7 separate regions of the Homo sapiens genome follow, and all the other regions are linked to region 2. Evidence: fine-mapped expression QTL. A gene starts in region 2. Each other region holds a variant in brackets. All regions are shown on one strand. Distances are between the middles of the regions.

Region 1 (4,064 bases), 120 kb after region 2:
CCATGACTGGCAGCAAAACTGGATGACTCACACCCTCCTTCTTTCCACATTTAACTCAGTTCCAAATTCAATTTTCACCTTAGGTGCAAGGGAGTCAAGAAAATGGTTTTTAGTTTTCCAGATTTTTCAGGAAGAGAAGACATATTAGAGGTTAGAATGTGTCTTGAGCAAGCGATGTCCTTGCCATACCCAGAAAGGTTTTCTCCATGCATGCACTAAACCGCTGGATATGCTGGAAAAAAATTTTTTTTTTCCTTGCATCCTACATTTCTCTAGTAACCTCATTCTCCCACACTCCACAGTGACTTTCAAATCTTCTACAATATTCTCAAATTTCTCAAAACTGGATCCTCAACTGGATCCTGGATAATCCCTTATCCCCATCGGTTAGCACATCCTCTCCTCCTCTTTACAATCAGATCTATGAAAAATACTGTGTAGGTTCACTACCTACATTTTCTTGTCCAAATCCTTGCCTCATATCTGGCTTTTGGCCCAATCACACCAACAAAATAACTCTTGCTAAGGTTACTGTGACCTCCATGATGATAAAAGCCAAAATATGTTTTTCAATCTTCATGTTATTTAAATTCTAGAAATTTCTATCACAAATCATTCTTTTGCTTCTGAGACATTCTTCCAGTCCTCCTTCCTTTCTTCTGTATCTCCTGTAGGTTCACCTGTTCTTCACCATTAAATGTTGGAACTAGTCAAGGTTCTGACTTAGCTGACCTTACCCACACCTATGGCTCAATTCATGTATATACAAATTATGCCCAATTTTATATTCCCAACACAAATCTCTCTTCTGAGCACAAAGCTGTATTTCAAACTGCCTCTTGGATGTCATGAATGACCCCACACAATCAATCAATCAATCAATAAAAACTGATCTCAGCTGGGAGCAGTGGCTCAGGCCTGTAATCCCAGAATTTTGGGAGGCTGAGGCAGGTGGATCACTTGAGGCCAGGAGTTGGAGACCAGCCTGGCCAATATGGTGGAACCCCATCTCCACCAAAAATACAAAAATTGGCCGGGCACAGTGGAGGCGCCTGTAATCCCAGCTACTGGGGAGGCTAAGGCAGGAGAATTGCTTGAACCTGGGAGGTGGAGGTTGCAGTGAGCCAAGGTTGCACCACCACACTCCAGCCTGGGCGACAGAGCAAGAACCTGTCTCAAAAAAAAAAAAAAAACAAAAAAAAACTGGTCTCTAATCATCTTCTAGTGTTCCCTATCCAGCTTGAGGGATTCCGTGATAGTGAGTGAATGGTACCACCATCTATTCAACTACATAAGCCAGAAACCTAGGAGTTACCTTTGATTCCTCTCTTCACTCCCTAAAATCAACCCATCACCAAGTCCCACCCATTTTACCTCCTATATACCTCTAGAATCTGTCCAATTCTCTGCAGTTCCACCCATATCTCAGTCCTCACTGACATCTCTGACCAGGATTACTGCATATCCCAAGTGGTCCACATACATCGACTAGGGCTTCCCCAACCCCCGTCTGTTCACACCACTGAGCCTGAGGGATCAAGTCCCCTCCTCCACCACACCCCACTGGGGGAAGACGGCTCAGTGGTATCTCATCCGTTTTAAAATAAAAGCTACAAATTCCTGCAAGGTCTGACCGCTATCACGTACAGCTTCATCTTGTACCATACTCCCTTCATTCTCTTTGTACCAGCCACACTGGCTCTTTGTGCTTTTAGTCATTTTCCTCCCAAGTGCCTCAGGGCTCTGAACAAGTAGTTCTCTATGGAAGGTTCTGCCTTCACTTCTTCACCTAATTAATTACAACACTTCCTGCAGCTACCAGCGCAGGCATCTTTTCCT[C/T]TGAAAAACCTTCCTGCTTATTTCAGGCACTCATAGCATCAGGCAGCAGTAGGAGGCATTTCCATGTATTAGTGAGGTCATTGTTTAACGTTTTCCCCACCAGAGTTAAACGCCCTGAGAGTAGGGACCGTGCCCGGTTCACAACATACCCCCAACGCGCTGCTAAATGAATATCAGCAGGACGACTGAGGCAATGACCACGTTCATGGGCATGAGTCTCAAATTTCTCAACAAGACTGTGCTCTGGAGAAGGAGTCGGACATTTCCTTCATCACTGTCTCTCTCAGGGGGGCATACAGTAGGCCCTGATCAAAAACTGCAAAATCAGTGGCAGAAACAAGTCAGCCTCCTCGGCCAAATGGGGCACCGGAGGAGGCTGGGACGCAGGCCTTTCTCCCTGGGAATGCCCGGCACAGGACTGGCCACGATGGGCGCTCTTGAAGAAGGGAGCCGCAGGGGCTGGGTCTTGCCGCCAGAGACCCCAAGGCTCCGCTCCTGCCCCGAAAGGGAGCCCAGGCTACTACTTACCACAGCTGGGGACTCGGGGCCCGCCTCCCACCCCTTGCTGTCAGCACCCTCAGCTGAGAAGGGCAGGTTCAGACTGCACAACCGAGGCGTCGCCTCCAGACTCAGGCAGCCACCCACCCCGTTCTTCCTCATACGTACTAGGCGTCAGCTCCAGGTCCCCGAGTCGCTGCGCTGAACTAAACGCCGACCCCAGTCAGCCAGCGCGTTTCCACCCACAAGACCCAGCGCGCCTAGGGCGGTCGCCAGCTCCGTCCACCAATCCTGGTATCGCACTCTCATGACGTCAGAAAGATATGCCCAATAACAAGAGACTATCCGAGGGCGGTGCAAATGGAAATATTGAAAGCCGATTGGTTCTTCCAAGCTGGAAGTTGTGGAGGAAGGACTAATTTGGAACCAATTGCGTGGCGCCTGAGAGCGGCAGCGCGGTCAGTGGCGGCGCTGAAGAGACCGGTTGCCGCCATGATAGAACAGCAGAAGCGTAAGGGCCCAGAGTTGCCGCTGGTTCCAGTCAAGCGGCAGCGGCATGAGTTGCTGTTGGGAGCGGGGTCTGGCCCAGGAGCCGGGCAGCAGCAGGCGACGCCGGGAGCCTTGCTGCAAGCGGTAAGTGAAGAAGCAGGCGGCCTTTGGCCCTCAGCTCATCTTCCTCCCCTCAGAGCGCTGTATCTGGTGATCCCTGACCCTTTCCCGCATTGCGGGGGCAGAACGAGAGTTTCTACGCAGAGTTAAAGCACATAAACACTGTAAAAGCTCCCCATAGCCTGCGAATGCTGCGTACGTGTTCCCCCGTTTGGCGCCCGTTTTCAGCCTCTCGACTGCCCTGAGATAGCATTAGAATTAGAGTTGAGGACCTTGGGCTCAAAACCCTGACCCGGGTTTAAGCATCCTGACTCTAACATGGATCTGGCATAGAACAAAAATTCCGAAGAGTGTGTAGAATGAATGAATGAGGGAGGGAAGAAAAAAGGGAAATGATTTGTGTTGGCTCGTTTTGGGACTTTGGGCAAGTTGCTTTTCCCTTTATTTCTCTGCACTAGTATTATTAACAACTAAATAGCAGCTAACATTCATTGACTCTTGTACTAAAGTGTTTCGTATATGAAATTTCCATTGATCTTGGTAGCAGCCTGTTAGGAACGTTATTAACCCATTTTGCAGATGGAAAAACAGACTTACCAAGTACGTGATAGAAGCAGATTTCGAACTGAGAAACCATGCTCCTAACTACATTTTTTGTAAGATAGAAATAGTGATCACACTTCTAATGTCCTGTTTAGGCTCAGACGAGGAAATACGAGTGTCCTCACATCTCCTCAATAAATCCTGCTGGCACCGTCCTCAAAATAGGTCTAGAATTGCTACTTCTACCATCTCCATCATTGCCTCATGGCCTAAGCCATTATTATCTCATCTGGCATTTTTGTAGTGGGACCCTAACTGGTCTTCCACTTTCTACCTTTGTATCAGCACCTGTTACCAAGCCAATAACCAAAGGAATCCTTCTAAACATCAGATCACATTACACTCTGCAGAAAACTTTCTGGTGGCTTTGTACTTCATCCAGAGTAAAAACCAAAATTCTTGTAATTATTTGCCCTCTTTCCCTTTACCTCTCTGACCAATTTCTTATTGCTCACCTGGCTTCAGTTACTCTCTCTTCCAAGCCTCTGCTTCAGGACCTTTGCATTTGCTGTCCT
Region 2 (4,064 bases):
GAGGGGCTCGGAACAGTACCTGGCTCAGTAAATGTCAGAGGCCAGAACCTCAGTAAATGTCGGAGGCCAGAACCCCAAGGGGATGGCACTGAAGGGAGGGCCGGGTCCCTTGCTGATATTACTCACTAAGTTATCTCCCAATTCTTCCCTGGACCAGCCCTGTGCCTCAGGCAGCCAGGATGTGGGGAAGGGAGGGAAGGTGTGGGCAGAAGCCTGGACCAGGAATCAGATGTTGATCCTAACTATGCAGTTCTTCATCCTTTCCCTGTGCAACCTTAGGAAAGTCAGCTATCTTCTCCGGGCGGGTGGCAGTCTTCTCATCTGTAAACAGATGGTTTGAGCAGTCCTATCTGCTCTCAGCATTGTAGAATGCTGTAACTCAGAGACCAGCACTTGGCTTTGCATTGTCTCCAAATGGAATTCTCCACCCACCTTTCCTTGATGTTAGCAATAATTCCCACAAGGAGCACTCACGATATGCCAGGAACTGTGCCTCATCTCCCAACAGCATTGTGAGAAAGGCCCTGTTACTGTCAACTGCCAGATGGGGTGACCAAGGCACACAGGGCTGGCAGGCTGCCCCTCAACATCTCCACCCCCAGGCCAGCCCAGCAGGGCCTGTGCCTCACCAGGTGCAACCGATGGAAATCAGGTCCACTGTGGAAGCTCTGCCTCCCTCACCAGGAAGCAAACCCTTGTTGGCAGAGACCTGGCCCAAACCTTGAATTCTTTGGGCTGGGAGGGATTTCAGGCACCAGCTTGATTCCTCCTCCTGCACACGCACATGCACACGCACACACACACACGAAAAATGGAGGCCTAATGAGGCGAGAGGCTCTCTTGCCTCTCTGTGCTGTCTATGCTGATCTCATTCTCAGAAAAAGGCTGTAAAGTAAATCTCTAGACCCTCAGCTCTCCCCTACACCCCCTCCTCTCTCTCTCTCTCTCTCTCACACACACACACACACACACACACACACACACAACCCGTCAGGGACAAAGGAAAGCGAGTCCCGAGATTCAGCAGCCGCTGCAGCCCCTTCTCCCTCTCAGGGCCTCTTTGTGTGGGGCCAGAGGGGGAGGGGGCTGCCTGAATGAACCTCAGATTTAATGAGGGGAAGAGGAAAGGAGAGGGGGGCTGGGGAAAGGGAAGGGAGAACGGGCCTCCCAGCCGGGGTCTTGCTGGAGCCCCTCCCCTCTGCGGCTGCAGCTACAGAACAGAGGTTGGCCTCCCCACAGGTCCCGAACCCGCGACCGGGCACTCCCCGCGCACACCCGAACCTCCCTCGATTCCTGCTCTCCCAACCCAGAGTTCCGCCCGGTGGTCCGTGACGACCCGCACCCGCCTCACTCGAGGGCAGCTAAGAAAGTCCGGGGCTCCCTCCGCTCCCATCCCAGTCTCCGCGCTGGGGCCCAGATGATCCGGGGCGAGCTGGGGAAGTGCCTGAGAGGCAGCGCGAGCCAGACTGAGGACGGTAAAGGGACCGCAGAGAGACTGAGGGACGGACGGGCGGACGGGCAGACGGACAGAAGACAGCAGACGGACAAAGACAGTCGGACGAACGACGGACACAGACAGGAACCAGACAAATACGAACGGACAGGCGGAGCCCGAGCGACAGGAACAGGCGGACTGGCAGGCGGCCAGAGGGGTAGGGCAGGGCACTCGCCAGGAGGGACGGGGCCCGGGCGACCTACACAGAGAACCAGGGCGTCCGGGACGGGGACAGAGGCCACCCCGAGGACCGCCCCAAGTGGGGCGACGAGGGCCCACAGAGCTGCCCCGACCCCGGGCTCCAGGCTTAGTCTCTCCAGGTCCCAGGAGGGCGCCCGCCGAGGGCACTCCCCTCCTGCCCGCGGAAACCCGAGCCGGGACCGCAGCTGCCCGGCGCCTGCCGGCCAGGACTGAGCAGGGGGACGGGGGCAGCGGGATCCGGGTGCCGAGTGAAGGTCCAGGAGGGCGAGCAGGCGGGGCACCGGCCCAGAAAGACAAGTTTGCAGGAAGGAAAAAGAAGAAACTACTCGGAGCAGAACAGAAGAAAGTGAGGGCCCGCAGCAGGAACGGGCGGCGCGCGCGGGCGGGCGCCGGGGTCGGGACTCACGCAGCTGAGCAGGGAGCAGGCTCCCAGGCAGGCCCCCATGGCGGCGGCTCCCGGCTTCGGGCGCCCGGCGCCGGGCGCGGGGCGCGGACCTCGGGATCCGGGTGCCGGGCCTGGCCCCTCCCCGGCCCCGGCCCCGCCCCGGCCCCGCCCCACCTACCGAAGCCGCTCGACGCTTTCCGGCGGCGCTCGGGGCCTCCCCAGACTCACCTGGGGCAGGTGCGCCAGGAGGGACCCTAGGGAAGGGGCCGGTCGGGGATTCCCGCGGCCACGCGAGCGGCGCAACCTGACCCAATCGTGGCCCGGGCTCGCATCCTGCTCCAAAGTGAGCGTTCGGAAATCGACCTCGGTTTGAGCCCGTGTGACCCCAGGACACTGTCACCCTTGGGAACAGAAGCCAAGAGGTGGTCACCGCTGACTCCTCAGTGCTTGGCGCAGGGCCTCTGCTCAATACGTAGATGCTGAGGTTGAATGCTGAATGACTGGATAAAGAAACTTCGGCAAGTCACTGCACCTCTATGAGCCTCAGTTTCCCGGTCTGTAAAGTGAGGATACATACCTCACAGGGTGGTTACAACACATGGTAGGTGCTTGACAAATGTAAGCCCCCATCGTCACTGTTTTCTTCTTCCTTTTTAAGAGACAGGGTCTTGCTCTGTCACCCAGGCTGGAGTGCAGTGGTGCAAACATAGCTCACTGCAGCCTCGACCTCCTGGGCTCAAGTGATCCTCCTGCTTCAGGCTCCTGAGTAGCTGGGACTACAGGTGCATGCCACCATGCCCACCTACTGCTTCTTCTAAGACCCCAGCCTCTCACTCTAAACCCATCCTCCCTTCTCTCCATCTGTTCTTCAAACTCCACTGACTCCCAACAGCCTGCTGGGAGCTACACACTCCCTACAGCCACCCCTGCTTGGTGGCTTATCACTCCCTAGGGATGCCCAAACTGGTCCCTAGCTAAGGAGGTCAGAAGGTGGGGAGGGGCGGCCACATTCCTGACAGATGGCTTTCCAGGGGTAGGTGTGAGAGACCCAGAAGTAGGGCTCTGTAATTAGTCTCCCTTCACCCTTAGCCCTGTCCTCAGCCACCTCTGGACAAGATAATGTTAGGGAAAGAAGTCTCTGTGCCTCGAAGCTGGCCCCAGGGCCAAAGAGCTGGTTGACTGCATCCTTGGCTGATTCACTGGGCGCCAGGCTTAGCCATTAATTGCACCAGGACTGTTCCACAAACACACCCTATACTTTTCCTCCTCCGCACTTTTGCCCACACAATGCCCTCCTCTTTTTTTTTTTTTTTTTTTTTTTTTTTGAGACAGGGTCTCACTCTGTCACCCAGGCTGGAACACAGTGGCCCAATCATGGCTCACTGCAGCTTCAACCTCCTGGACCCAAGTGATCCTCCCACCTCAGCCTCCCAAGTAGCTGTGACCACCAGTGTGTACTACCACACCCAGCTAATTTTTTAAAAATTTTGTGTAGAGATGAGGTCTCCTTATGTTGTCCAGGCTAGTCTCGAACTCCTGGGCTTAAGCAATCCTCCTGCCTTGGCCTCCCAAAGTGCTGGTATTACAGATGTGAGGCACTGCACCTGGCAGATGCCCTCCTCTTAAAGGTCCTTCTCCTTATCCCTCTTTCTCCCCTTTGAAGCTTGCTCACATGCCATACCTCTCAGTGAAGAGAGCCACCACCCTCACCCCCAACCCACTACCTGGTTCCATTAGGAATGAACATCCTCCTGATTCCCCCAAGCCTCCAAACAATATGGGCCTCCCTTATGGCCTCACAAACAACCCGAGCACATGCCCAACTTTCCCCCGTGGTACCATTTGAGCCCCACAACAGCCCTGAGAAGTCGATTAATTCCCCACCCACTCGTTTACAGATGAGGAAACCGAGAAACAAAGAAGTAGTGACACGCGAAATGTAAATCAAGCGTCGAATAAACGTTGACTGTGATCACTGTGGTT
Region 3 (4,064 bases), 130 kb before region 2:
TGCCAATGGACTTACTGGATCACAGACTTATTTTACTCCCACACCTTATTTCTTGAACACTACTCGTAGGATTTGAACAAAGCATACTCATATCTATAAACTTATAAATAGTCACTTTATTTGCAAGAATGACTCACCACTAGCAGCAGACAGGGCCATCAACACGCTTATAACATGGTGACAGCTGCAAGCAAGACTGACTCTGTCCTGACCTACCTTCCCTGTGCCAGTCCGAGAAGTGTTGACTTTGACCTTTGACACTGCATGCCACTGTTTTCTGCTCTAGCCTTTGACACAGCGTCAATGGCTTCCTTCAAACCAGTAACAGCTCTATGTTGATGGTTAAGTTTTAATTTTCACAAGAGAATAATAATAGTTTTTCCTGCCACCGGAGGTTGGTGTTGCACAAGCTGAGAGAGGAGAGAATTTCAAGGAGGGAGTGGTCAGCTATCTGGGGACTGGGAGGAGGCTGTGGGCTGACTGACAGGTCAGTGACATGGCCCTCTGAGAGAACCTTCTACAAGGATCTACACGGATCGCTCCACGTTCTTCACGGGTAGTTGTGTGTTGAGGTGTGGGCTCCACCTCCCTGGCCGCCTGTGTTCCTGGAACCCGCCCAAACCTTTCAGCCTCTCAGGGCCTTTGTGACGCTGCTCCCTCTTCCTAGGGTGTCTTTCCCCGTCCCTCTCACCCTTCAGGTCTTCCCTCCACTGGCAACTCCTGACCACCCTCTCCAGTCGCTGTCTCCTTGTTCCTTCCCGGCACCCATCGCCATCTTTCATCCTCTCACTGATTTACTTGTTGATGGTGTGTCCCTCCCTCCCGCTCCCCTACAGGGCATGTCAGCTATACGGAGCAGCGCTCTCTGCTGTCTCATTCCCTGCAGAGCCCCAGCACCTAGCACATAGTAGGTTTCCAAGAAATATTTATTGAACGAATGAACAACTGAATAGATGGGGTAGGCAAGTGCAGATGAAAGCTTAAAGTCACCTCTCTGGACCTCTGTTTCCTGGTTTGTCTGATTTGTCAAAGAGATAAGAGCTCCGGTCCTCCCCTTTGAACCAGGCATGGTTAGACCCAGACCGTGAGCAAATCCTACGTGGGTGCAACACTGAGAATGGCCAGTAGGTGGCAGTAAGTCACTGTGGTCGAACTGGGACAAAGCCTGGCCCAACCAGGGCGCAAAATACCTAAAGTTTAATCCACCAAAGTTTATTTCCACCACGAGGCATGCAAGTCTCTCTTAAACACAGCACGCGTGCCCCTGCTACCCTGAATGGAGAACAATGAACCTCCATTTGGATTCAAATCCCAACTCTGCCACCAACTACTAGGTGGCCAGAGTAAATGGCCTCTGTAAAGTGGGAGCATTATGAGCGCGCAGTGGGTAACGGATGTGGAAAGACAGCATGCCGGAGCAGGGCGAGGACAGCAGGCAGCTGGCCGTAAATGGAGCCTGGGCCTGCAGGGAGCCCACGGCCACCTCATACTCCAAGCCACGCCCCCCGCCCACGTTGGCTCTTCCCCAAAGCCCTCCACCCATTCTGCTGCTGCACCCACGCAGCTGCATGTGGCTGAGGACAAGGTACATCAGATGACTGGCCTCACTCCAAGGTGACCCCACAAACCTGGAATGGGCCCCTGTGCTTCCGGCAACCCAACCAGGCTTCACCGGCCCATTAACTCTCCCACCCCCATCCCTCTTCTCCTCGAGTCCTCACCAAGACCCCCTCCTGCCCCCTGGCTATTGGCTGTGACCTTGGTTCTTATCTCACTGAGAAAAGAGAATCAGACGAAAATGCCGCATTCTCAGGATGCCAAATCTTCCACCAACCAGCACCACCCAGGTACCACAGAGGTACACACTGAGGGCACATCCTCCCTCATGCACAGGGTGCCAAGCCCTTTCACCACCCTGGGTTTTGCCCTGGCAA[G/T]TCTCACCTTTCTCTTCTGCATTTTTTTTTTTTTGAGATGGAGTCTCAATTTGTTGCCCAGGCTAGAGTGCAGTGGCACAATCTCAGCTCACTGCAACCCCTGCCTCCAGGGTTCAAGCGATTCTGTTACCTCAGCCTCCCAAGTAGCTGGTACTACAGGTGCCCTCCACCACACCCAGCTAATTTTTTTTTATTTTTATTTTTAGTAGAGGCGAGTTTTCACCATGCTGGCCAGGATGGTCTCGAACTCCTGTCCTCAAATGATCCACCCACCTCAGCCTCCCAAAGTGCTGAGATTACAGGCGTGAGCCACCACCCCCGGCCTCTCTTCTGCATCTTAATTACTTTCCCCTCTATGGATCATGCCCGTCAGCCTAAAAACAAGCTGTGATCTCTCTCATTCAGAATAAACTCTCCCTTGACCCTACGTTCCCTCCCTCTAGCTGCACTCCCATATGTCTGCCCTCGTTTACAGTGCAACTCTCCGGGAGAGGGGCCCATGCTCCACCCATCCCCACCGGGCCCCACTGCAGTCCACCTGCCCTTGCCACTGAAACCCTCAGGATCACCAGTGACCTCGGTTCTTCCCAATTCCATTCTCAGCCCTCAGCCCACGTCTCAGCAGCATTTGAGAGTTGAGTGTTCCGTCCTTGCAACATTACCTCTCTTGGTTTCTGTGACTTTGTCTCTTCTCTATCCGTGGTCACTTCCCAGCTGTCTCACTGACCCAGAGAATATAAAGTCCACCCAATGCCAATCATTCCCACGTGTGTATCTCTCATCCTGACCTCTCCCTGGAAACCAGATTCTTCTATCTGGCCCTCGCTGGAGGTCTAACAGGCTGCTCAAACTTAACTTGAACTCTTGATTTTAATCCCACCTAACCTGCTTCTCCCTCAGTGTCCCTGTCTGTCTAATGGCAGTTCCGGCCCCAAATCCTGAAGTTGCCCTTGACTCCTCTCTGCCTTACACCCCACATCTGATTCTGCAGCAAATTCTCTGGGTCCAACCTTTAAAATCTGTGCTGGACCTGACTGCTCTCACCATCTGCACCACAAACAGCCTACTCCATGCCCCCTTATTTTTGCCAGGAGTGACATAAGTGGCATAGCCTCCTCCTTGGTCCTGCCACATTCTCTCTGTCTCTCTTGCATGCACCGCATTCACCTGCTTAGAATAAAGTTCAAGTCCCGACACAACAAGGCTTGACAGGAGCAGTGGGGACCCTTCTCCTGCCTCATCTCCTTACACTTCCCTCTGACTCACTCTGCTCACCCACTCAGGACTCCTTGACGCCCCCCCTTTTTTTGGTACAGTCTCCATTCCAGCCTTGGAACTTGCTGTTTCAATGCCTGTAGCTGCGACCCAGCCAACCGCACAGCCCCTCCCTCTTCCCTTCAAGTCTCTTCTCCTCAGAGAAGCCTCCCTGACCCCTCTACCTAAAGTAGCCCCGCCCTCTACCATTCACTATCCCTTCATCCTGTTTAATTTCTCTTCACAGCACCAATGCTTCCACTTCATCGTTTCTTTATATGTTTTTTTATGCCGTCTTCTCCCAACTGGAAGGTAAATTGCACACGTGTGGGTTCTCACCCATCTTGTTCACCATGTGTTACCTGTGTCTGGAGCAGTGCCAGGAAGACTAGGACCTCACACTTTTATTGAGTAGATGGATGGATGGATGAATAGATGCATGCATGGATGGACGGATGGATGGATGGATGGATGGATGATGGATGGATTCATGGATGGATGGGTGGATGCATGGAGGGATGGATGGATGAATGCATGGATGGATGGATAGATGCATGGTTGGATAAATGGATACATGGATGGATGGATGGATGGATGGATGGATGCATGGATGGATGAACAAATGGATGGATGGATGGTTGCACAGATGGATAAATGGATACATGGATGGATGGATGGTTGCACAGATGGATAAATGGATACATGGATGGATGGATGCATTCACGGATGGATGGATGAATGCATGCATGTATGGATGGATGGATGGATGCATGCATGCATGCATAGATGGATGGATGGATGGATGCATGCATGCATAGATGAATGGATGGATGCATGGATACGTGGATGGATGGAAGGATGAATGGATGGATGGAT
Region 4 (4,064 bases), 79 kb after region 2:
TAAATAAAATAGGCCAGGCACAGTGGCTCACGCCTGTAATCCCAACACTTTGCAAGGCCAAGATGGGAGAATACCTTGAGGCAAGGAGTTTGAGACCAGCCTGGTCAACATAACGAGACCCCATCTCTATTTTTTAAATATTGTAAATCTTATTTTAAAAATAAAAAACAAAAAATTTAAAAAATGTAATGCTCCATATTAGTAAAGATGTGATAAAATATCTGTAGTTACACAATACTGATAGAAATATAAGTTGGTAAAATTATTTGAAAGCAAAAAGATAAAGATGTTTATCTTTGATGCAAGAATATCATCAATAGAATTTTTTCAAAGGAAAAACTCACAAGAGCCAAAAAACTTACAGAGCTGAAATAACTTGCAGTCTAGCCTGGGCAACATGATAAAACCCCATCTCTACCAAAAATACAAAAATTACCTGGGCGTGGTGGTGCAAACCTGTGATCCCAGCTACTCAAGAGGCTGAGGTGGGAGCACTGCTTGAGCCCAGGAGGCAGAGGTTGGAGTGAGCTGAGATTGCGCCACTGCACTCCAGCCTGGGTGACAGAGCAAGACCCCCATCTCACAAATAAATAAATACATACATACATACATAAATACATAAATAACTTGCGGTATTATTACCTACAGAGGTTAAAAAATATATAAGAACCATAAAACAACCCTAATGAACAATAACTGGAAAACAGCATGGCAAACATAGTAAATCTGTGGAATAAAAAAGTAAACAGCCATTTAAATTAATTACAAAAAATATTTATGATAGACGTTAAGTTAAAAAAGGAAATATAAACAAGCTACTATTTTTAATCCATTAAATTAGCAAAGTATTTAGAAAATAATATTCAATGTGGTGAAAGGATAGTAAAATAAGAACTATTACTAAGGCTAGAATAAACTTTTGGAAGTCACTATCAATGGCTATCAAGAATGATAAAATACTAATAAACTATTACACATTTAATAAAAATAATTTAAAATGAAATAATTGCTGGGCATGGAAGCTCAGGCCTGTAATCCCAGCACTTTGGGAGGACTGCTTGAGCCCAGGTATTCAAGACTAGCCTGGGCAATACAGTGAGACCCCATCTCTAGAAAAATTACAGAAAAATTAATAGGATGTGGTGGTGCATGCTTGTAGTCCTAGATACTCAGGAGGCTGAGGTGGGAGGATGGCTTGAGCCCAGGAAGTCAAGGCTACAGTAAGCTGTGATGGCACCACTGCACTCCAGCCTAGGTGACAGAGCGAGACTTTGTCTCAAAAATAAATCAAATAATATTTTAATAACATTTAATAAAACACTTATAGCAAACATCCTTTTCCTGTCTGTCCAAAATCCTTTCCTTGGGAGAACCACCTTGCTTATTACATTTTACATATACAAATCAGGATTGTAAACTACAAAAAATTGCCAAAGCCAATCTTTACCACCAGATGGCAAGAGTCTGCCAGAGAAAAGCAAAGAAGAGCACTGGTAAACAAGAAGCAAAGCCCTGGGAGTATAAACTGAGCACCCAATACAGCAAAGGCTGAAGTCCCAGCAATAGAGGAAAGAGACAAGGGGCAGAAACATAACTGAGAAACATAACTGAGAGTTATCCTGGAAGCCCCTGACAAGATTGGCCAAAATGTTTCCCAATTAAGTTTCTGCCCCTTGCAACCAAGAGTTCTAATACTTTATTTGACCCCTAATTGCTTCTGGGAACCTGTCCTAAGAAAATAACTTTATACATAGGAAAAACTATATGCTTCAGGAAAAGTGATTTACATCAAAATATTCAATGTATTTTTAAGACAGGAAAATTTAGAAACAACAAAGGATAACAATTAGGTCAATTATGGTATAGTCGCTTGATGGTCCATTCAAAAGATTTTTAAACAAGTCAATAATTCCTTCTTTAGTAAATAGTTATTGAGTGCCTATTATGTATCAAGTACTGTAGGTATCTAGCATTTTCCCATACTAAATAACAAAAGCATAATGCAAAATTATACAGTATGATTACAAATGCTTTAAAAACATTTTAAAAATTAGAAAGAAATGACTTGAAATGCCAACAGTGGTTATAGTATTACAAGTTAACCTTTTCATTTATTTTCGATAATAAATAATAATAGAGGATTACTTCAATTCTGGAGAAAATGAACATAAATAATTACTCTGAATGAATAAAAATCAGTCATCCTGTCTAAAATAACTGCCCTCCCTGAAGTTGCTTGGGAAATTTATCCACCTCTATTCTCATTCTCCCACTCTCTCTTTCACACACACACACACACACACACACACACACACACACACACACACACACACAGAGAGAGAGAGAGAGAGAGAGAGAGAGAGAGAGA[T/GAGAGAT]GCACATGGATGCCTGCAGATGCCTGAAACTCAAAATACCTGCCCTTTCTGTTTAGAGCTCCTACTGGGAGCCACTACTTTCTCTATCCATCATCACTACATCCCACATACCTACATAAGCTGATTCTGGAGGTTGATAGCCTACCTATCTAAACAACTCTGGGGCCTCTAAAATGTTTTATATACATTATGTTTTTAATTTTAGATCAACACACAATCTCCAAATTTGGTGAAATTCATGCAAATGGGGTTTATTTTTTTCCCCTATGATGTAATGAGCCAACTAGCCTAATTTTAAAGTTTGAAGAGGAAATTCAGATCCCATAAAGGGGAAGCCCTTCATCTTGACTTGTTTTTGGCTGCAACTGTCCTCTACTGGTTAAAATTCATCTCTTTCCTCTATTGCTAATGAAAGTTATGATGGAAATTAATGTTGAACCTAATATACTTGAGGGAACACTATTCTTCTTCCCTAAAACAGAAAGTCTATTTACTGGAGTACCACATAGAAATAATGGCATCAAAACTTGTCCTTCTCTCACCTGATTCCATATAACCAGTGAAAAAATGACAAAAGATTTCAAATGAACTTTTTTTGTCTTTAAGTAGCTTAAGCAAGTTAATTTGAAATATTTTGCTCTTTTACGCTATAAATGTATTTATTTTATGCTACAACTGAATTTCCATGGGTCTTTAGAGTATATCTAAGAGTCAGTGAGAGTAAACTATATATATACACACACATACACACACACATATGTATTTTATTTTTTATTTTTTTGAGATGGAGTCTCACTCTGTCACCCAGGCTGGAGTGCAGTGGCACAATCTCTGCTCACTGCAACCTCCACCTCCTGGGTTCAAGTGATTCTCCTGCCTCAGCCTCCCGAGTAGCTGCGATTACAGGTGCCTGCCACCACGCCCGGCTAATTTTTTGTATTTTTAGTAGAGACAGGGTTTCACTATGTTGGCCAGGCTGGTCTTGAACTCCTGATCTCTTGATCCACCCGCCCTGGCCTCCCAAAGTGCTGGGATTACAGGTGTGAGCCACTGCACCCGGCATTTTTTTAAATTCTATTTTATTATTTTATTGTACTTATTTTATTTTATTTTTGGTACAGGTAGCTCTCTCCTGGATAAACATGACCAGTCTAGAAGCGTTAGCAGTGAAAAACTGGAAACAACTTAAAATGATTATGTGGTACATCTGAATGACAGAATAAAGCCATTAAATGTTTATAGAAAATATTTTTTTAATGGGGAAATGTTTAAGGTCCATTACGTGCAAAAAACTACACATTTTAAATATACAGTATAATCTTAATCTCAACATATTAAATTGTGTACACATATGTGAATATACAGAAATACACCAAAATGTTGGCCAAGCGCGGTGGCTCATGCTTGTGATCCCAGCACCTTCGGAGGCTGAGCCGGGTGGATCACTTGAGGTCAGGAGTTCAAGACCAGCCTGGCCAACATGGTGAAACTCCATCTCTACTAAAAATACAAAAATTAGCCAGGTGTGGTGGCAGGCACCTGTAGTCTCAGCTACTTGGGAAGCTAAGGCAGGAGAATTGCCTGAACCCAGGATCATGCCACTACACTCCAGCCTGGTGACAAAGCAAGACTCCATCTCAAAAAAAAAAGAAATACACCAAAATGTTAACAGTGCCTATCTCTGTATGGTAGTAAT
Region 5 (4,064 bases), 58 kb before region 2:
AGATTTGCATGGGCCCTTTAACCCCTTTGTTTTGGCCAATTTCTCCCATTTGGAACAGTTATATTTACCCAATACCTATACCCACATTGTATCTAGGAAGCGACTAGCTTGTTTTTTATTTTACAGGCTCATAGGCAGAAGGGACTTGCCTTGTCTCAGATGAGACTTTGTACCATGGACTTTTGGGTTAATGCTGAAATGAGCTAAGGCTTTGGGGGACTGTTGGGAAGGCATGATTGGTTTTGAAATGTGAGGACATGAGATTTGGAGGGGCCAGAAGCAGAATGATATGGTTTGGCTGTGACTCTACCCAAATCTAAACTTGAATTGCATCTCCCAGAATTCTCACATGTTTTGGGAGGGACCCTGGGGGAGGTAATCAAATCACAGGGGCCGGTCTTTCCTGTGCTGTTCTCATGAAAGTGAATAAGTCTCACGAGATCTGATGGGTTTGTCAGGGGTTTCCCTTTTTGCTTCTTCCTCATTTTTTCTCTTGCCGTCGCCATGTAAGAAGTGCTTTTTGCCACCACCCATGATTCTGAGGCCTCCCCAGCCATGTGGAACTGTGTAAGTCCAATTAAACCTCTCTTTATTCCCAGTTTCAGGTGTGTCTTTATCAGCAGCATGAAAACAAACTAATACAGCAGTGCTAAGAGAAAAGTTCATAGCCCTAAATGCCTACATCAAAAAGCCTGAAAGAGCACAAACAGACAATCTAGGGTCACACCTCAAGGAACTAGAGAAACAAGAACAAACCAAATCCAAATCCAGCAGAAGAAAGGAAATAACCAAGATCAGAGCAGAACTAAATGAAATTTAAATAACAACAACAAAATACAAAAGATAAAACAAAAACTGGTTCTTTGAAAATATAAATAAAATTGATAGACCATTAGCAAGATTAACCAAGAAAAGAAGAGAAAAATCCAAATAAGCTCAATTAGAAACAAAATAGGAGGTATTACAACCAACACCACAGAAATACAAAAACTCATTCAAGGCTACTATGAACACCTTTACACACATAAACTAGAAAACCTAGCAGAGATGCATAAATTCCTGGAAAGATACAACCCTCCTGGCTTAAATCAGGAAGAACTAGATATTCTTGTTAAAGATCGTGAACTCCAAGTTTCTTTTCAAAGAATCACTATGTCAGTATGTTCAGCTCTCTTTATTCTCCATTTTAAAGTCTAACTTCCTGGTTCTATTGCCCCGCTTGCCTCTAGTTTCAGTAAACAAGTTTCCTGCCAGTTCTAATCAGTAGTTCACATCTGTTCCCCTGGTCACCTGCTTTGTCCTGAGTCACCCCTGGTCACCTGCTCCATCTTGAGTCACCCCTGTCACCTGCTCTGACCTGAATCATCCTGAGTCAACTGTTCTGTAACCACCCCTCCCGCCAAACTTCTCACCCTGTCACTCCAGCTTGTACCCCTGCTCTCTTTAAAATAGCCAATCGGAATTAGCTTACACTGTGCGGTCCAATCCTAGCCAATAGGGGAATGACACAACAGCAGGGACTACCTGCACCAGGAATACGAACCGCTTCCCTCCCCTTGTTCAGGTGTGCTTTCGCCATTACTCCAACCACGAGTCGCACCCTTCTATAGAAGTAAAAATTACCTGGCTGAGAAAATTAAATTTATGTTCAAGTGCTATTTCTCTGCAGCACCAAGGAACAGGCATTTGTTTCTAACAATCTCGTGGCCCATATGGGGAGCTATTCTCCTCTAGGGGTGGCCTCTATTCCTCTCTCACGCCCCACTGCCTTGTTGCGGTGGCCTCAAGAGTCAGGAATCGAGACTCACCTGGTGTGACAAATAAACCTGGACTCAGCAATGTCGAAAGAAACCAGCCGGCGACCCAGGGGAAAGGATCCTCACACACCACAGTGACCAGGCAACTCTGTGCACAGACCGAGGAAGGAAACGCCTGGGAGCCAGCAAAGTATTTCCTTGGTGGTTGGGACAGACCAAGGTAAGAGAAGCCACAGGGGGTGGTGGTATTCCTTGATCAGGACATATCAAGGTAAGAAAAGACACGGAGGAGGTGGGGCGGTGAAGTATTCCCTGGTTGGGGTATCT[T/C]GAGGGTTAAAAATAGGCAAGACATTTCTAGCAAGGGGAATTGAGCCTCACACTAAAAATGGGAAATACCCCAAGTAAGGTAAGGGATAAAAAGGATACACTAGCAATGATAATATTCCCCCTAATAATCCGCTCAGCCTAATGATAAAATATTAGAAGGGTAATGAAAGGACCAAAAACAAGAAAAAGCAGCTGCTGTCCCAGACCCTTCTCCTATCCCTGTTGTCCCTCTCCTTATAATTCTGCCTCTTGGGAATGTTCCCAAGAGCCCACTCACGACCAGCCTGAGTACCCTTCCCTAAAAGGACTTCACACGAGATAGAGCAATGTAAAAAGGATATTCAGAACTTCCCTTTCCCCTCTTCTCAGGGGAAGAAAGAGGCATGATCCATAGGGCTGCAATGGGAGCCTAGGAACCATGAACACCCCGCCCCCGGCTTCCGGCCAAAACGTTCCTACAGCGGATCAAAAATTTCCCACCCAAGACCCCTGGTGGGACAATAACAATGCAGCCAACCAAGAAAATATGCAAGACCTTAAGGAATTGATAATAAAGGGGATTAAAGAATCAGTACCCCGAACCCAGAATCTTACCCAAACATTTGATATACAGCAAGGGAAAGATTAAGGGCCTATAGAATTTTTAGACAGATTAAAGGAATAAATGAGAAAATATACTGGTCCAGGTCTCGAGGATCCCCTTGGACAGGGAATGTTAAAACTTCATTTTGTCACTAACAGTTGGCCAGATATTAACAAGAAATTACAAAAGATAGGGAACTAGAAAGATAAACCTATAGAAGAGCTTCTAAGAGAAGCCCAAAAAGTATATGTAGGAAGAGATGAAGAAAAACAAAAGCAGAGGGCAAAAATTCTGCTGTCCACCATACAACAAAGTACCCAGGGGGCAAGAACCTATAAAGAACCTAGACCCCCACTCTCCAGGCAACATAAAGGGTACAAAAGAGTAAAGCCAGGAGACTCAAAGGTAGAGAAAAAAATCTTAGAGGCGAGAGAAAGACTGACAGAGGGGACAGAGGAAGTCAGAGAGAGAGAGAGGGAAAGAGACAGAGGAAGTCAGAGAGAGAGGGAAAGAGACAGAGGAATTCAGAGAGAGAGAGAGAGAGATAGGGAGAGGAAAAGGGAAAGAGGACAAAACAAATGCTTCAAATTAAAAATAGGTCACTTCAAAAAAGAATGTCCCAAGTGGGAAAAAGAATAAAGTCATATGTAAAAGCAAATCAGCTAATATTAACTTTCTGCTAATTCTGGAAGCAGGGACAAATCTATAAGGAAGAGATTTAATGCTAAAATTAGGCTTAGGCCTCGAAATCAATCATAGAAAATTCCTCCTTTCCCTAAACTTACCACCACAGCAAAAGATGGGAAGCAAGGAAAGTTACAGATTCCTCCAATTCATGTTAAATTAAAAAAAAAAACTATTAAAAACACCTGGGGAAGTAGTAAAGAGAAAGCAATGTACCCTATTTCTTTGAAAACTAGGGTAAATTTAAGACCTATAATTGATAATTGAAGGTCGTCTTGGTGTTGGGCTTCTTAAACCCTGTGTGTCTCCCTATAACACTCCAATATTGCCTGTAAAGAAGCCAGATGGGGGCCAGGCGCAGTGGCTCACACCTGTAATCCCAGCACTTTTGGAGGCCAAGGCACGTGGATTACAAGGTCAGGAGATTGAGACCATCCTGGCTAACACAGTGAAACCCCGTCTCTACTAAAAATACAAAAAACGAGCTGGGCGTGGTGGCAGGTGCCTGTGGTCCCAGCTACTCGGGAGGCTGAGGCAGGAGAATGGTGTGAACCTGGGAAGCGGAGCTTGCAGTGAGCTGAGATTGCGCCACTGCACTCCAGCCTGGGTGATAGAGTGAGACTCTGTATCAAAAAAAAAGAAGCCAGACGTGTCATACCAGTTAGTGCAAGACCTTGGAGCTATTAATCAAATAATCCAAACTACCCACCCTA
Region 6 (4,064 bases), 38 kb after region 2:
GGATTTGCCCCGAATTCTTTCTTGTGTGAGATGCAAGAACTCTCTCTTGGGGTCTGGATTGGGACCCCTTTCTGGTAACAAAGACCCCATGGACCAAGGGCATAAAAAGAAGGGATGTCTAAGACTTGCTGGTTCTATGGCAGGCAGAGGCAGAAAGAGCCCCACCATCATTCCCAGCAAATGGGAAAAGTTCCCAGTTGCAGATATTAGGGGTGGGATGGGGCGGGGGTAGTCAGCAACCATAGACTTAGACCCTGAAGAGGCAAAAAAGGAGGGCCATGTTCTTGGGTCAGCAGAGCTTCTACTCAGCTTCTTCAGCCTCTAGCTCTTTCCTGGTGCTAGTAGCACATTCTCTAGTGGAGGCATCCAGATGGCAGGGAGGGTCCAGGAAACAGCTGAACATGCTGAGCAGGCCTCCCTTGTCCCCGCTCCCCATGGCCCCATGGATCATCCGGTGCTGCAGCTCATCTCATTGGCTGGCTTCTGGTTACTCATCTCTCCTCTTCTCCATCTTCCCAGCCTGTGGTTGCCGTGGAAACATAGAACAGTGACCTCACCATAGGATGAGGGCTGGGGAGATGCTGTTCTTGGCAGGCGCTGGTCTTGCTGCCTGCCAGATGTTATATCCACATCTGGATCTGCCAAGGGCAAGACAGAGGAGTACAAAAAGGGACAGGGCTCACATTCTTCCCCAAATGTAGTCAGCATAACAGAGGAAGAGGATGCAGGTAGATCAGAGGGATGAGGAGAGAACTGTACATACTTAGAAGGGAGAAGGGTGTAAACCAGGAGGAAAGGAGATGGGGTGTGGCTTATGGGTTAACCTCGGTGACCCAGGTCTGAGCACCATGGCGAGGTGAGGGAAGGGCAGTGAGGGTAGTTGGTCTGAGGTTTGTCGAGTAGAGCTCCTCAAAGCCCCGTGCTGCTCAATTTGGACAGGCCCAAGAGAGGGAGCAAATGGATTTTCTGGCAGTGACCCCACCCCAACCCATTCTGAAAAACCTCTATAGCCCCTTTTTCAGTTGAAGCCCTTTCTAATCCTGTCCCAGAAATAATAAAACTGAGGATTAAAGAAGCAAAGCAATCTGCCTCAGGTAACTAACTCAGTAGGTAGTGGCAGAGCTCAGACTAGGTCTTAGGTGTCTGCACTATCCCTGGAGACAATAACAATAGCAGCAGGAGGAGCAGCAGCAGTGAACTTTCGTAAGTCAACCATGCTTAGCATTTAAATGTATTATCTCGGGCCAGGTGTCGTGGCTCACACCTGTAGTCTCAGCACTTTGGAAGCCGAGGCAAGCAGATTGCTTGAGGCCAGGAGTCCAACACCAGCCTGGGCAACACGGCAAAACCCTGTCTCTACCAAAAAAATGCACAAAAAATTAGCCAGGCGTGGTGCCATGCGCCTGTAGTCCTAACTACTCAGGAGGCTGAGGTGGGAGGATCCCTTGAGTCTGGGAGGTCAAGAATGCCATGAGCTGAGATCATGCCACTGCACTCCAGCCTGAGTGACAGAGTGAGACTCTCTCCAAATAAATAAATAGGCCAGGCGTGGTGGCTCATGCCTGTAATCCCAGCACTTTGGGAGGCCAAGGCAGGCGGATCACTTGAGGTCAGGAGTTCAAGGCCAGCCTGGCCAATATGGTGAAACCCCGTCTCTACTAAAAATATAAAAATTAGCCTGGCGCGGTGGCCCGCGCCTATAGTCCCAGCTACTTGGGAGGCTGAGGCAGGAGAATCACTTGAACCTGGGAGGCTGAGGCAGGAGAATCACTTGAACCTGGGAGGCAGAGGTTGCAGTGAGCTGAGATAACACCATTGCACTCCAGCCTGGGTGACAGAGTGCAAGACTCCATCTCCAAAAAAAAATCCCTTCATTTTAAAGATGAAACTGAAGCTGGCGTGGTGGCTCATGCCTGTAATCCCAGAACTTTAGGAGGTCCAGGTGGGCAGATCACCTGAGGTCAGGA[G/A]TTTAAGACCAGCCTGGCCAACATGGCGAAACCCCGTCTCTACTAAAAATACAAAAATTATCCAGATGTGGTGGCAGTTGCCTGTAATCCCAGCTACTTGGGAGGCTGAGGCAGGAGAATTGCTTGAACCCAGGAGGTGGAGGTTGCAGTGAGCCAAGATCACACCACTGCACTTCAGCCTGGGCAACGAGACTCCTTCTCAAAAAAAAAAAAAAAAAAATGGAGACTCAGAATGGCTTAAGTGAATTGCCCAAGGCCACACAGCTAGTACCCAACAAAATTCAGATCAGAACGCAGATCTGCCAGCAGCCATTAGCCCAGCCCCAGCTCTCCATCATTGCATTACAAGGGCCACATAAGGAGTCAGTTCTAGTTCCTGGCCACACAGTCCTTGAGAGGAGGCCCTATGTGTGAGGGCTGCGACCTTGAGTCAGAAATCATCTTTTCCCCCTCCTCCTCTCCTGGCACCTGTTCCAACAGTGAGATCACCAAGGCTCCATGCCCAGCCCTGAAGCCTGTCCCTATAGCTTTGGCAGAAATGAGCCTCTGAGTCTTCTGGCAACTGGACCGTCCAAAGGAATCAAGATCTTAGGGTGGGGAGAGGGCTCTTCCTCCCTGGCCTTGTTCTCAGAACAGTCCAGGGAAGGGAGGCAGGGTTTGCACATGGAGAAACAGAGTCCCAGGAAGGAGGGCCTGCCATACTCTACGCACGTGGCAGGCCTCTGGGCTCCTGTGTTGGCTCCTGCAGGCCCACCCTGGACAGGCTGCTGCTGGCTGAAATTCAGTTCGGCACTACTCCTTGGTGTGCAGGGCCTCCTGCCATCCCTCAGAAATTCATTTATACCTCACTTCCTTTGAGAAGTCTACATTGGGCCCTCAGGTCAGGACAGGACAGGACTCCCTTTAGAGGCACCACGCTAGTTTTATGTCTGGCTGCCCAGAGGTGAATGTGTGTCTTGTTCCCTGTTGTCTCTCTCCAAAGCAGGGCCTGGCACAAAGTAGGTGCTTTATTAACTGCTGAATTAATGAGTGAGCTCCTCAGAGCTTCAACTTGTTCACCTTTTTAAAAAGAGAAAATAATACAGTAACACCTACTTCATGGATTTTGCTTTAAAAGTCCAATGAGGCCAGGTGTGGTGGCGTGTGCCTATAGTCCCAGCTGCTGGGGAGGCTAAGGTAGGAGGATCCCCTGAGCCCCGGAGTTTGAGGCTGCAGTGAGCTATGATGGCGTCACAGTACTCCAGCCTGGGAGACACAGCGAGAGACTTTGTCTCTAAAAAATAATAATAAAATAAAAAGTTCAATGAAACAATACACCCAAAGCCCTCAGCATGCAATAAATAGCAAGACAAGGCAGGTCTTATTTTTACTGAAAGTGCTTAGTAAACTATACAGTGACAAACCACCGCACAACAGGCTCTCGAAAGGAGGCAGCAAATTACCCAAAAGTGCAGGCGGCTTGCTAGTGTGCACAGGCCAAAGAAAGGGCGGCAGGTGGGGAAGGCAGCCATGGGCCTTGAAGAGCTGACCGAATTGGCAGAATTTCTGCAGGAGGGGAGCTGGGAACGACCTGAGCTAAAGCTCGGAGCTGTGCGAAGAAACCGGAAAAGCCCAGAGCACTTGCAGGGGCGGGTGGGGAGCTAGATGGTGGGGTGGGGTGGGGACGGAGGAGGGCCAGCAGGAGACATTCCGCAGGGAGGGGCAAGCACGTGTGAGGCGGGCGGGGCGCGAAGGGTCAGGCTTTTGCTCAAAACAGGCAGAGGACAAGGTCAGCTCAGCCGCAGACCGAGCCGCTGGTGACTGTCTCCGCCACCAGGCAGTGAGAGTGAAGGGAGAGCGCGAGCTCTGAAGCCCGCTAGACTAAGCTTGCAATCTGAGCTCCATTCACCCCCTCCTATTTCTTGAGACCTTGTCAGTTCCCCTGTGAGCCTCGGACTCCTCACTTGTAAAACGAGGACAGATGCCCGTGCCAGAAGTCAACCAGAGCTTTCCCCGGCGTGGGCACCAGCCCAAGGGCGTTTTGCTTTTCTAGTCTCATCTCTGCTCTGACGCTAAGCTCAAAGAGGGACTGGGGGACGGGAAGATATCCACCATGGC
Region 7 (4,064 bases), 110 kb before region 2:
AGAGGCATGCCTCAATCATAATGGCTGGGAGTTGATTGCCTTCCTAGAAGATTCTGTCTGGGTAAATATTAGGCTCTTGCTTTGCTAGTAATTAGGGTGAGCAAATGTGGACCACAGCTGAATTGTTTAGGACAGGAAAGAGAAGCCAAGGACTGTCAAAAGAAACCTTCCTTTTTCTAAACCTTCCTCCACATAATGTTGTTCCTCCTCCAAATAAATGTTAAACTAGTTTTAGTTGAAATTGAGAGCAAAACCCACAAACAATAAAAAGGAAGTCAGGAGAGGCAGAAAAAAATGCACAGAACAGAAGAATGTGTCATTAAGAGTTAAACATCATCAGAAACAGAAGAGATATGCATAAAACAAGAACACTATGCTATGGAAAAGAAACAATCAGAGAACAAGAAAGAGCTCTTAGAAATTAAAAATGTAGGCCAGGCGCAGTGGCTCACGCCTGTAATCCCAACACTTTGGGACGCCAAGGCAGGTGGATCACCTGAGGCCAGAAGTTCAAGACCAGTCTGGACAACATGGTGAAACCGGTCTCTACTAAAAATACAAAAAATTAGTTGGGCCTGGTGGGGGGCGCCTGAAATCTCAGCTACTTGGGAGGCTGAGGCAGAAGAATTGCTTGAACTTGGGAAGCGGAGGTTGCAGTGAGCCGATATCATACCATTGCATTCCAGCCTGGGCAACAAGAGCTAAACTCTGTCTCAAAAAGAATTTAAAAAAAAAATAAAAAAGAATAAAAATGTAATAGCTGTTTGGTCAGGATAGGGTCAATGCTGTAACAAACCATCACAATCTCAGTGGGTTGTGACTAAGAAAGCTCATTTCTTGTTCCCATCACAGTCCCATTCTTCCCCAAGTCACAGGAAGGAATTAGCTCCATGTAGTCATTCAGGGACCCAGGCAACTTCCTTCATGAGGTCTTGCCATCTCCTAGGGTATTGAAGTACCCTACTTCTAGCCAGCAGATGAAAAAGAGCAGGAGAAGAAAAGAAGATACAGAAAGAAAATAAAAGTTACTGGGCACCGTTGGGGAAGTTGGGGCACCAACTTATTACTCTAAAAATTGTTAATTAAAGGAAAAGAATTAAGCATTTTTTATGCCTAACTGCATTTTCTGGTAATTAAATAGCCAAAATGAATGAAGGAAAGCTCTTCTATGCAGAAGAATTTCAGCTACTACATGAAGAAAAAATTAGAATCAGAAAATTATCATTTTTTAAGCCCCTAAGAAAATAACTGATTCAAGCAATGGTTTTCAATGGATGCCAAAATCACTCAGTGAAAGGTTGATGGAGAACTTCTCAGTGAAGGGTAAGGTTGCCATTGCCTGAACCTAAAGATAGATCTTAGCATCATTAAAAGCAAGACCAGCAGACATCATATGCCTCCAGGTGTGATGCACTGGAGACTTACAAGGTATCCCATGAAGTATAAAGAAGCAAGTGACTGTATCCCTAGTGTAAAAACTCTACATGAGAATTGACACAGTTTCTTCAGGAAGTCAATAGCACTGAGAACAAATATAGGAAGAGGAATTAATTTATGTTAAAAGAGAGTTAGAGGCTGGGCACAGTGGCTCATGCCTGTAATCCCAGCGATTTGGGAGGCTAAGGCAGCCAGATCACTTGAAGTCAGGAGTTTGAGACCAGCCTGGCCAACACGGTGAAACCCTATCTCTATTAAAAACACAAAAATTAGCCAGGCGTGGTGGCCCACACCTGCAGTCCCAGCTACTCAGGAGGCTAAGGCGCGAGAATCGGCTGAACTGGGGAGATGGAGGTTGCAGTGAGCCAAGATCACACCACTGCACTCCAGTCTGGGTGACAGAGCGAGACTCCATCTCAAATAATAATAATGATTTTTAAAAAGTCAACTAATAACATAAGGTGATGAGTCTGGAAAGGATGGCAAGAAAGCACACTTCATAAATATGAAGGAAAATGAAGAAAACACTTGTGTTAGGGTTCTCTAGATGGACAGAACTAATAGGATATATATATATATATAAGGGAGTTTATTAAGTATTAACTTACATGATCACAAGGTCCCACAATAGGCTGTCTGCAAGCTTGAGGAGCAAGGAGAGCCAGTCCAAGTCTCAAAACTGAAGAACTTGGAGTCTGATGTTCAAGGGCAGGAAGCATCCAGCATGGGAGAAAGATGTAGGCTGGGAGGCTAGGCCAGTCTTGCCTTTTCACCTTTTTCTTCCTGCTGTATATTCGCTGGCAGCTGATTAGATGGTGCCCACCAGATTAA[G/T]GGTGGGTCTGCCTTCTCCAGCCCGCTGACCCAAATGTTAATCTTCTTTGGCAACACCCTCACAGACACACCCAGGATCAATACTTTGCATCTTTAATCCAATCAAGTTGACACTCAGTATTAACCATGGTAAGTCCACCCCTTGTCAAGCTGAACCCATACACATCTCCTGAGATCATACATAATCTTCAAATAAAGACAATAATAAGGTCATAATTATGCCTAAAATAATACAACTATCCTTGGTACAACTGGAAACCCACCAATCCCCAACCCAAATATTATTACATAAAGTTAATAATACTTAAATGTTGATATGAAGTCAGTAAATCTTATGTCACATGATAAAGGAAAAGGAAATAAAATGGATATATTTTCTTCGTACAAGTGTATACATGCACAAACATGTTTTTAGCCAAAGAAGGAGGAAATACTCATGATAGTTACAGTCCGCATTTCTGCAGCTGGTCACATGGTCATAGGTGGTATTGATGATTACCTTCTTCTACTACCCATTCTGTATTCCCTTTGCCTTCAGCAAGCACCTCAGCAGGTTGTGGTTTTTTTCCTGGTGGAGTGACCCAAACCTTCATTCCTGAGGGGTCTGGGCTATTTGTAGTCCTGCCTGGATTGCGCTATTGTAGTTTCCCATTGACCTTAATCAAAGGGCATGGTAATACTAAGAGATGCTCTAAAGGATGTCCTGTATTCCATGCATACTCTTCCTTACCTCTGTTATGGAGTAGTAGACTGATTTTATCTTGATAGTTCACCTTCCCACTCCATCTCCCTTCTGGCTCCCCCATCTGCTGAGAGCTACTTCCACTCAATAAAAACTTGCACTCGGTCCCTAAGCCCACGTGTGATCTGATTCCTCCAGTACACCAAGGCAAAAACCCTGGGATACAGAAAGCCCTCTGTCCTTGTGATAAGGCAGAGGATCTAATCGAGCTGATTAACACAAGCTGCCTACAGATAGCAAAACTAAAAGAGCGCTCTGTAACACACACCCATTGGGGCTTCAGGAACTGTAAGCATTCACCCCTAGACACTGCCGTGGGGTTGAAGCCCCACAACCTGCCCATCTGCATGCTCCCCCTAGAGGTTTGAGCAGCAGGGTACCAAAGAAGCGAGCCACACCCCCATTGCAGGCCCTGCGAGGGGGATAAGGGAACTTTTCCCATTTCACTTGTGCTGTGATTCAGTTCCCTGGGTGACTCTGCAGGGAGGCTGGAGGGAGAGAGTTCTCCCAGAGGGACCATCCCACACCCACTTCCACCTAAGAACACCCCAGTGGGGCAGAGCAGGCCCTCCCTGCTCCACCCCAAGCAGGGCTTGTGCCCTGGCCTTTCTGGGGTGTGCTCCTGCATACTTCAAGCTCAGCCAACATGAGATACTCTGACTCAAGTGTAGGGTCAGGTGGGGAGAAATGAATGAGACCGGATCAAGCCAACCCAAGCCTATGCACCGAGTTAAGGGTGTACACACTCACTGGGCAATGGGGCAGGGTATTATCGTCCCCATTTTATGGATGAAGATATTAAAGTTCAAAAGTTTAGATGGCTTGCCCATGGTCTCACAACTGCTGTGGAGTGTGGTAGTGAAGTTCATGGACTCTGCAACCAGACTGCCAACCTTTGAGCCTGTTCTGCTGCTGATCTGGGCAAGTACTTGACCTTTCTGTGCTTCCATTTTCCTCTGCCAAATGGTGAGGCTAACACATGCTACTTGGTAGGGTTGTTATGAGGACTGAATAAGCCAATACACATGAAAGGCTGAGGATAACTTTTCCTTTG

The links. PIP is the estimated chance that this variant, and not a neighbour inherited with it, causes the effect.
Region 1: its variant is fine-mapped to the expression of SERINC2 in whole blood (TOPMed, PIP above 0.99). The same link has a PIP of 0.9 or more in lung.
Region 3: its variant is fine-mapped to the expression of SERINC2 in sun-exposed skin (GTEx, PIP above 0.99).
Region 4: its variant is fine-mapped to the expression of SERINC2 in whole blood (INTERVAL, PIP 0.99).
Region 5: its variant is fine-mapped to the expression of SERINC2 in left ventricle (GTEx, PIP 0.99).
Region 6: its variant is fine-mapped to the expression of SERINC2 in whole blood (INTERVAL, PIP 0.97).
Region 7: its variant is fine-mapped to the expression of SERINC2 in monocytes after LPS (Quach 2016, PIP 0.95).

What each region holds. Positions count from the first base shown.
Region 1 is chr1:31,295,517-31,299,580 of GRCh38, reverse strand. SNRNP40 (small nuclear ribonucleoprotein U5 subunit 40) reads left to right here and starts at 2,793. Exons shown (of 10, transcript NM_004814.3): 1 at 2,793-2,970. The coding sequence starts at 2,830. It overlaps ZCCHC17 (zinc finger CCHC-type containing 17), which reads right to left and starts at 2,549. Exons shown (of 8, transcript NM_016505.4): 1 at 2,506-2,549. RefSeq lists an enhancer at 2,815-3,024. The variant C/T (reference allele first, on the strand shown) is at 1,840.
Region 2 is chr1:31,411,343-31,415,406 of GRCh38, reverse strand. It overlaps SERINC2 (serine incorporator 2), which reads right to left and starts at 2,194. Exons shown (of 10, transcript NM_178865.5): 1 at 2,103-2,194. The coding sequence starts at 2,141. RefSeq lists enhancers at 127-675, 1,946-2,446 and silencers at 2,170-2,229, 2,310-2,379.
Region 3 is chr1:31,546,123-31,550,186 of GRCh38, reverse strand. No RefSeq gene overlaps it. Among named protein-coding and RNA genes, the nearest start is that of TINAGL1, 28 kb to the left of the region's middle. RefSeq lists enhancers at 40-109, 780-1,019 and a silencer at 1,090-1,209. The variant G/T (reference allele first, on the strand shown) is at 1,935.
Region 4 is chr1:31,332,608-31,336,671 of GRCh38, reverse strand. The region is part of intron 3 of ZCCHC17 (zinc finger CCHC-type containing 17); the gene reads right to left. Among named protein-coding and RNA genes, the nearest start is that of ZCCHC17, 38 kb to the right of the region's middle. The variant T/GAGAGAT (reference allele first, on the strand shown) is at 2,369.
Region 5 is chr1:31,468,979-31,473,042 of GRCh38, reverse strand. LOC124903900 (a long non-coding RNA gene) reads left to right here and starts at 1,567. Exons shown (of 2, transcript XR_007065585.1): 1 at 1,567-1,977. LOC105379772 (a long non-coding RNA gene) reads right to left here and starts at 1,925. Exons shown (of 3, transcript XR_001737618.2): 1 at 1,809-1,925. RefSeq lists an enhancer at 1,082-2,281. The variant T/C (reference allele first, on the strand shown) is at 2,085.
Region 6 is chr1:31,373,386-31,377,449 of GRCh38, reverse strand. LOC124903892 (a long non-coding RNA gene) reads right to left here and starts at 3,151. Exons shown (of 2, transcript XR_007065573.1): 1 at 3,063-3,151; 2 at 1-638. RefSeq lists silencers at 354-648, 3,894-4,064. The variant G/A (reference allele first, on the strand shown) is at 1,968.
Region 7 is chr1:31,516,818-31,520,881 of GRCh38, reverse strand. LINC01226 (long intergenic non-protein coding RNA 1226) reads right to left here and starts at 2,447. Exons shown (of 3, transcript NR_027085.1): 1 at 2,046-2,447. The variant G/T (reference allele first, on the strand shown) is at 2,269.